Regions from separate parts of the Homo sapiens genome. Here region 2 is linked to region 1. Evidence: fine-mapped expression QTL. A gene starts in region 1. The other region holds a variant in brackets. All regions are shown on one strand. Distances are between the middles of the regions.

Region 1 (4,386 bases):
GCCAAGCATGGTGGCACACACCTGTAGTCTCAGGTATTTGGGATGCTGAGGTGGGAGGATTGCTTTAGCCCAGGAGGTTGAGGCTGCAGTGAGCCATGACCATGCCACTGCACTCCAGCCTGGGTGACACAGCAAAACACTGTCTCAAAAAAAAAAAAGAAACTCTTCAGGCTGATCAGATCTGCTTTTCTCTGATGAGTTTCTTAGGAGCTCTACATTTCTGGTTGCTGCAATAGGCAAAGTATAGAATGGAGGTCAAGGCCTCAAATTTCTCTGACTTCCCAGCTGGGCTTGAGAGTGACTCTGGCCCTCAACTGAGGGCATTAGTAAGCTGTCCTTAAGAACGAGAGTGTATTTTCTGGCTGTATTCTTAACTCATTTCACTATAGAGCCATGTCTGATATTAACAGTGCAGTGCTAGACTAGAGAGGCCTGGCACTCCTACAGCCTTCTCCTGTCTTCTAGCTGGGACTTCACACCACAGACCCAAAGGAAAAGAGACCCAAAGATCCCTGCAGAAACCTGAGAATATTTCCTTTACCTCAGTGGTTTCATAATCTGTTCTTAGTTTCCTGTTTCTGCTGTAAATAATTCACTATATTTTTAAGAGAGAGAAGGTCAGGCCCTTGTGAGCCAGAAGGGATTTGAGAGATGATGAAAGCTACGTATGTTACCCATAACCTAAGGACTTCTGGCAAGGTGGCCTACCTGAGCTGGAGTCATGCCTTTTTTCCCTGGACTTGGAGATACCTGTCAGTGCAGAAAGGCCTACTTTTGATCTTGGAAATAAGTTTCCTGGGGTGAGTTCTTAACCCTTTCCAGCTTTCCCACCCTCTTTGGCTTTAGCCATGGCCTTCTGATCTGTGTTTCTCAGGGGACCTGCAGGCCCCAGATATAGCCCCATGCTGTCCTCCTACCCCAGAGCACACTGTTCAGGCTACTTCCACTGGTACTGAAATCCAGTATTTCACTTACTCTTTTTCTTTCCAATATCCTCATGACATTCAATATTTCACTTACTCTAGGTCCTCCCTGCCTAAGGCCCAAGTCAACTTTCTGTCCAGTGGGATTTGTAATCCAATACCTCCTAGCCCTAGCAGAATCCCATGTGGATAATCAGAAATGTGACTGGAAAAAGGACAGAGCTCTATGGCTGTGGGTCCCAGTCCCCACTGCTGGCAGTAAGTCCCCAGCAGTGAGCTGTGTAAGCACCTTACATTCTGCGCTTGGTTGAAAACAGCAAGGCAAGCATCCACTTGAGAAATGTCAACCCCTAGGAAATCCCAGCCTCAAGTCTTTCTCATCCCTTGGGAAGTGCAAATTGGATAGAGAAGAAACCAATTAAAAACAAAACAAACAAATCATACTTAGATATTCTGGCTTTTCTCACCAGGGCTGGATTAAAGCATGTACTTCAAAATAATAACAACTTAAGTCAATAAATAAATGTAAGGAAGTCCAAATGTTCACCTGAAGACAACTGTGGTCATTTTTTGGCAATCCCAGGTTCTCTTTTCTACCTGTTTGCTCAATCGTGGTCTCCCTCTCCCTCTCTTGTTGGGGCCCATGCCCCTGCTTTACTGTTGCCAGAGGCTTGTACTTGTTTGCCTTTTAGGTAGGAGCAGTTACTTCCACTCCCCTCACCTGCCATAAAGCATCTTTATAAACAAAGCAAGTAGAAGAAACACATCCTGGTATCCACCACATTCGGCTTTTGTTGATTCTGTTCACTTGGGAGCACCTGCTGCTAGGGAATAAGAAGGTTGAGGCTGAAGAGTGAGGACTCTTCAGCTCCCCTCTGGCAGGACCCGGGAGAGGAAAGAGCCCTCAGCTGGTCCATCCTCCCCACTCCTGGTCAGCCTTCTGTTCTGAGATCAAAGTGGTGGGGTCACATTCTCGAGAACTGTGCTCAGCCCCCTCATCTCACACCCTTTCCCTCTCCCTGTGTGCCTGCCCCCCTCTTACATAACCATGCTGGTGATTGGCACCGTCATAAATCAATACTTTGCTCACTTTCACATCAAGTAACACTATCCAGGGAGGTGGTTTCAACAAAGGAGGAAGTATAAGGAGATCTAGGTTCAAATTAATGTTGCCCCTAGTGGTAAAGGACAGAGACCCTCAGACTGATGAAATGCACTCAGAATTACTTAGACAAAGCGGATATTTGCCACTCTCTTCCCCTTTTCCTGTGTTTTTGTAGTGAAGAGACCTGAAAGAAAAAAGTAGGGAGAACATAATGAGAACAAATACGGTAATCTCTTCATTTGCTAGTTCAAGTGCTGGACTTGGGACTTAGGAGGGGCAATGGAGCCGCTTAGTGCCTACATCTGACTTGGACTGAAATATAGGTGAGAGACAAGATTGTCTCATATCCGGGGAAATCATAACCTATGACTAGGACGGGAAGAGGAAGCACTGCCTTTACTTCAGTGGGAATCTCGGCCTCAGCCTGCAAGCCAAGTGTTCACAGTGAGAAAAGCAAGAGAATAAGCTAATACTCCTGTCCTGAACAAGGCAGCGGCTCCTTGGTAAAGCTACTCCTTGATCGATCCTTTGCACCGGATTGTTCAAAGTGGACCCCAGGGGAGAAGTCGGAGCAAAGAACTTACCACCAAGCAGGTATGGTTTTTCTTTCTTTCTCTTTTGCTGGGGGCTGACCGCCCTTCAGCTCCAGCCAAAAGATGTGTGTGAACACAAATATACCTTCTGTTTGAGGTCAGCATCATAGTGGGTCGTGAATCATGTTGGCCTTGCTGCTGTCTCCTCATTTCTAGGGTGGAAAAAAAAAAGCATGAAAACAATCACTTAATGTTGAGCCCCATTACTGATGCTCTCTGGTCCTGCACTAGCCTCCTAGAAAAATCACCACAGGAGAAGCCTTAACTACTGCATGAGTTACCACAAGTCACACATACAACCAGCTCCCTGTTACAGGGCTGGAGTCCCTGGACCCAGGAAATACCACCTCCAAGGACTGTGGGAGCTGGGGACTATGGGAACTGGGATCAACTCAGTCCTGATTCCTTTTGGCCTGCTGGGTTAGTGCTGGCAGCCCCCTGAGGCCAAGGACAGCAGCATGACAGTCACCAGGACTCACCACTTCAAGGAGGGGTCCCTCAGAGCACCTGCCATACCCCTGCACAGTGCTGCGGCTGAGTTGGCTTCAAACCAGTGAGTTTTCTACCTCTACTATTGAAAGGGCACCTTGTCCCACAGAACCGAGTCTTGCCTGCATGTGGTCAGTGCCACCAGGTCCTTCTTCTCTCCACTTTACAGCCCAGCTCGGCTGAAGCTATGGCCAGAGGCACTGCTTTAAGGCCACTCCATATCTAGGACAGGTCAACAGACACCTCTGAGGCCACTGAGTCTTGACTCAATGAATCAGCTATAGCAGGCACTATTCCTCTCCCACATGGCCTCTAATGATATGGTCAGAGTTGAAAGGATGCTAAGGGAGGCCTCAGAGGCTTATTTAATCAGTTGGTTAATGGGAAAAAGTATTTTGTGGTACACAAATACGCTTTAAAAATATTTTAGTTATGTCATAAAAGTCTAAACCTGGGGTTGACAAACTATGGCTCACAGGCTAACTCTGGCCCACCAGCTGTTTTTATAAATGAAGCTTTATTGGAACACAGCCATGCCCATTCGTTATGTATTGTATATGGCTGTTTTTGCCCTACAACATCCTTTCAACTCTGGCCATATCATTAGAGGCCATGTGGGAGAGGAATAGTGCCTGCTATAGCTGATTCATTGAGTCAGCAAAATTGACCAATTGCGAAAGAGACAGTATGGCCCACAAAGCCTAAAATATTAACTATCTGGCCTTTAACAGAAAAAGTTTGCCAACTCCTGATCTAAAAGCTGTCAACTTGTTCCAAAATTATTATGGAATAAACCCAAGACAACCACAAAACTGACTAGACTAGGTTTTTTAGGTAATAACTTTTTAAATTATAAAGTAATACATGATTTCATGCTCCTTGAAAATGAGAAAGCAGTATAGATAAACCTAAATTCACCTTTGGCCATTCTGTCAATCCTAATCTCCAGTTTCCCCAAAAGTACTTAGTGTGATATATTTACTGCCAGACCATTGTGTCTGTGTGTGTGTTCATCTATGCATAGATGGACTATTAAACCTATCTGTTGCCATGTTGTTCTAATTCTGTTTTTCCACTCAATAGCAAGACTTGGAGACTTTCCATATCTGTATAGAGCTCTACTTCATTTATTTTAACTGCTACGTCATATTTCACAGTGTACACTTCTTTTATTTAGCCGTTTTCTTTTCGATAGATATTTAAGCTTTTCCAATTTTTCAGTCTTACCAATGAACCTCACTGTGTTTGTCTGCTTCTAGACATGTGCACGTATTGC
Region 2 (4,386 bases), 29 kb after region 1:
GGCTAGAGCCGGGCCCAGCCTATGCCTGAACTAGTCACTAGCAAAGAGCAGCAGGTATGTCCCTGAGCTGGGCACACGCCACTTGACTGTGTGGAAGAGGGTGGATGTCTGCACCAGCTCCAGATGCTGCTGGCACAGAAGAGGCTGCCCAAGCAGTGTTCGTGCATCCTGCCTCAGCATGCAGGAATCTTCTGCTCTCCCTTCCTCATTTGGGTACTATTCCTGGGACTCTCAGAAAAAGGCAACATGTTGTAGTGGGCAAAAGCTAAATCCAGTATCAGGCAGACCTGGATTCAAATTTCAGCTTGTCATGTACCTGGAGGACAGCTGGGGATCCATCGTCTCCAAGCCTCAGTCTCCCTCATCTGTGCTAGGCAGATGAGATTATGAGTTTCACAGGGTTTTAGAACTAAATTTACAAAACTGCAAAATACCTAGCCTAGCATCTGATACATAGCATACCTTTAAATAATGTGAGCCCCGGTTTCATCTTTTACCCATTCTCAGTGGACTTTGATGTAGCATCAGAGTTTTCTTACCCAGGCCAGTTGGGAAGGCAAAAGGCAGGGATGGCATCTGTGAAGAACATGCCCCTGGGCTGGTCACTGGTCCGAGGCCCGAGGCCTCCAAGCTCAAACCTGCCAGGTCACTGCGGGCTTGGCTCAGCTTCCCAGGCCTGCCCTCGGGGACCTCTGCAGCCCTACCTGGCTGTTCCATGCTCCTGGGCCAGCCTTCCCTCAGTTTCCACTCTGGACCAGAATCAGAGGCCAGAGCCAAGGGAGAGATTGTTTCTTTCCATCCAGCTGTGGAGATGGGGAAAGTAAAGGTAGGACTGCACTGACCGTGTCTTTTGTGGGACAGGCAGGACTTCCGGGCTGGGAGGAGGAGATCTTGTACCAGAGTCTCCAAAAGGCATCTGCCCCATTGCCTCTCTGCGCACCGCAGAGAGGGGTGTGCGGGCCCGTGGGTCCCGCCTGCACGCTCTGCTGTTCCAGGCGCTCGACCTCTTTGCCCCCTAGGTCAACGAGGGGAATCCACTCTGCCATGGGGAAGTCGCTGCCCCGTAGGGTATAAGAACTTCCCCATAGTTCACCCCTTCCTCCCTGGCCGCCCAGTCTGGAAGGGGAGCTGGAGAAGGCGGCGGGGGGTGGGGGGAAGGCGGGGGGGAAGGCGGGGGGGTGGGGCGGGCTTCTCTGGTTTCTTACCCTCCTGGGGTCAGGTTTCCTCAGCTCCCTCCCTTAAGGAGGGGAAATCGAGGAAGAGGCCCATCTCCATGGAAACTTTCTGGTAACAAGGCTGTGAAAGAGAAGGGGACAGGTGTTTCAGGAAGAAGGGAAGGCGCTGAGGATGGGCCTGGAGAGGAAGTGTCCCTGAAAGTGGTTTTGGGGCTGCCCGCGCCAGCGAAAAGCACGTGTCCCATTTCCTGCCGGAATGGCCAGAAAAGGTCTCCTCCCCGGCTCTGCCCCCTCTAGCTGAGTCCTGGACCTCTAGGGACTCCCACCTACACCCTTCCCATAAAGCCTGACCCAGCTGGGACGCAAAGGCTAGTGTCCCCCTCCCCGAGTCGGTAGGGGCTGGGGAGGGAGGTGGTATGGCCCGGAGCCCCAGGCCGAGGGCCCGGGCACCCGTGCATCCCCCCTTCTGCTCCCCATTCTCTCACAGGAGGGCCATGAAACGCAACGCCCGGCTGAGGTGCCCCTTCCGGAAGGGCGCCTGCGAGATCACCCGGAAGACCCGGCGACAGTGCCAGGCCTGCCGCCTGCGCAAGTGCCTGGAGAGCGGCATGAAGAAGGAGAGTGAGCAGTGGGCGCGCGGGCGGGCCGGCGCCGGGGTGCACGGCTCTGAGTAAGGACGTGCCGTGGGTGTGGGCATGCTTGTGTGGAGATGCGCGCCGAGTGTGCGCGTGAACACACGTGCACATGTGAGCTGGTGTCCGTGTGCAACAGGCAGCCACCTGGGGGAGCGCTTGCAGTCGGCCCTCTGGGAGATGGAGGGAGTCGGTAATCTCTGCCCTGGGATGTGTGCTGGGCAGCCCTGGACAGGGCGTGCCCTCTGTCTCCCCTCAGTTGCTCCTGCATCATTCTTTTTGTCCCCTTCATAATTGTTGTAATGGTTTGAAACCACATTTGCGGGTAGGAGTGTGAATCTGGGGGAGGGAAGCAGGAGCCACATGGGTGATAGGACCCGGGGCCTTCTAGGTGCTAGCCCCATCAGCTGCCCCAGACCTGGATCTTTATAGGGGAACTGTTTGCAGACAGGTGACATGAGGTGTTCTCATTCTACCTATTTAACTTTGATATATTTGTGCTCCTAGGTCACTATGAGATTAAGGCTCATGCGGAAAAGGCTAGGTGTTTCT[A/G]GTGCATATTTGTCTCCATGGAACACAAAGGGACCCAAAGCTGCTTCTTTCAAGGACAAGTTCTCTAGGCTGCTGGCAGGCATTCTTGATCTCTCCCCACCAAGGACCTCATAGCTTTGTTCTACACACATGAGTGGGCTCCAGAAATCCACAGAAGACCCTAAGGCTCTGGGCTATATAAGAAGTCTCTGGAGTTGCTATTTCTTGCTAAGCTGTAGCCCAGCTCTCTAGGGTCTTGGAGACCCAGACACCTCTGAAGAGTCTTGGTATATAATTCACCAGAAAATGATAATTGTAGATGCCATTTACTGAACATCTCTTATGTACCAGGAACTATATTAGGCACCCTACATGCAAGGTCTCATTTAACAGCGGTGCGAGGTAAACACGGTTTCTCCGGATCACAAAGGAGAAACCTGGAGGCAGGAGAGGTTAAGGAGGTTGCTTGGGGTCACAGGTAGTAAGTGGCAAAGCTTTCATGCAAACCCAGCGCCTTTGGATTCTGAAGCCCGTGCTCTTGCCAGGGCCCCACAGTGTCCTCACAAACTCCACTGCAGAGGGCAAAACACCAGCCTCACCTCATCTCTGTCCTCACCCAAGTGTTTCTCCAGAAGAGCCCACAGGCCTCTTGAGTCCAGACAGGGGAGAATTGCTTGTCACCATTACTTTCTCTTTTGCCTAACGGCTTCTGCTGCCTTGAGAGGGTTACACAGTGGCTCTCCAGGGGGCTGGAGGCTCACCAGGGGCACGTGTGCCTGAGCCAGCCTCACTGTCCCTGCAGTGATCATGTCCGACGAGGCCGTGGAGGAGAGGCGGGCCTTGATCAAGCGGAAGAAAAGTGAACGGACAGGGACTCAGCCACTGGGAGTGCAGGGGCTGACAGAGGAGCAGCGGATGATGATCAGGGAGCTGATGGACGCTCAGATGAAAACCTTTGACACTACCTTCTCCCATTTCAAGAATTTCCGGGTAGGAGGAACTGCACAGTGACCCGAGGTGTCACTGCCATCTTCATTCTCACATAGAAACTGAGGTTCCCCAAGGATAAGAAACTTATACAAGGTCACAGCTAATCAGTGGTGGAGGGTAGATTTGGAGAGCTGGTCCTGCATCTGTGCTAGCTCCTCAAAGCCTTAGTCTCATTCCCAAAGGTTCTGAAAGTGTGGTCCCTGGGTCAGCAGCATCAGCATGCAGATTTTCAGGTCACCTCAGATCTCCTGAATCTGAAGCTCCAGGGAGGGGCAGGACCCCCCGGTGATTCTGTTGCAGGTTCAGGTTTGAAAAATCACTGCTCTCTCCTTTAAGGCAGGTAGGAACTGGGTCTAAGCAATAAGTGGAGGGAAAGCTAGGCAGTTCCCCAGTGTTGCTGGCATTCGGGGCTTTATGAGGACAGGATCAGGACCTGTTGGGGGTGTGACTTTTGTGAACTGGTGTTTCTTGATCCCAGCACATTAACTATGTCTGTGCTCTAAGTGCCCTCCTTCCCCTTTGCACTGATAGATATCTCAAGTGGCCCTTCACAGCCCAAATAACTGGATTAGCCCAGTGACCTCAGATCTGCTCTTCCCATCCATAGCACCCTAAACCTTCTGAGTCTCCTGAGCCCAACATCTGGAATGCTTGGGATGACACACCATGGTTGCAGTCCCCCTTACCCTCCATTTTAACCAAGCAGGGATGTGTGTGACCATTAATTCATAGATCCCCAAAGCACCTTCATCTGATAGAGAACACCAGAGAGAAGAAACAAATGCTGTGTGTGTATATGTGTGAGGACACACGCATGCATGTGGGTGTGAATGCCTGCATTTGTGCATCCTCTCGAGCTGCAACTGTGGCTGTGCATGTTTGGCTGGGGCCTGAGTTGGGACCTGTCTATGAAAGCACATGCTGTCTCTCCTCTGTCCACCTCCTGGCATGTGTCCTAGCTGCCAGGGGTGCTTAGCAGTGGCTGCGAGTTGCCAGAGTCTCTGCAGGCCCCATCGAGGGAAGAAGCTGCCAAGTGGAGCCAGGTCCGGAAAGATCTG

The links. PIP is the estimated chance that this variant, and not a neighbour inherited with it, causes the effect. A credible set is the group of variants that fine-mapping cannot tell apart.
Region 2: its variant is the best candidate, but not a certain one, in a credible set for the expression of NR1I2 in whole blood (TOPMed, PIP 0.86).

The regions. Positions count from the first base shown.
Region 1 is chr3:119,779,679-119,784,064 of GRCh38, forward strand. It overlaps NR1I2 (nuclear receptor subfamily 1 group I member 2), which reads left to right and starts at 2,423. Exons shown (of 9, transcript NM_003889.4): 1 at 2,423-2,622.
Region 2 is chr3:119,808,399-119,812,784 of GRCh38, forward strand. NR1I2 (nuclear receptor subfamily 1 group I member 2) reads left to right here. Exons shown (of 9, transcript NM_003889.4): 3 at 1,663-1,796; 4 at 3,141-3,328; 5 at 4,288-4,386. Among named protein-coding and RNA genes, the nearest start is that of NR1I2, 28 kb to the left of the region's middle. RefSeq lists enhancers at 1,298-1,801, 1,779-1,838 and a silencer at 1,309-1,568. The variant A/G (reference allele first, on the strand shown) is at 2,360.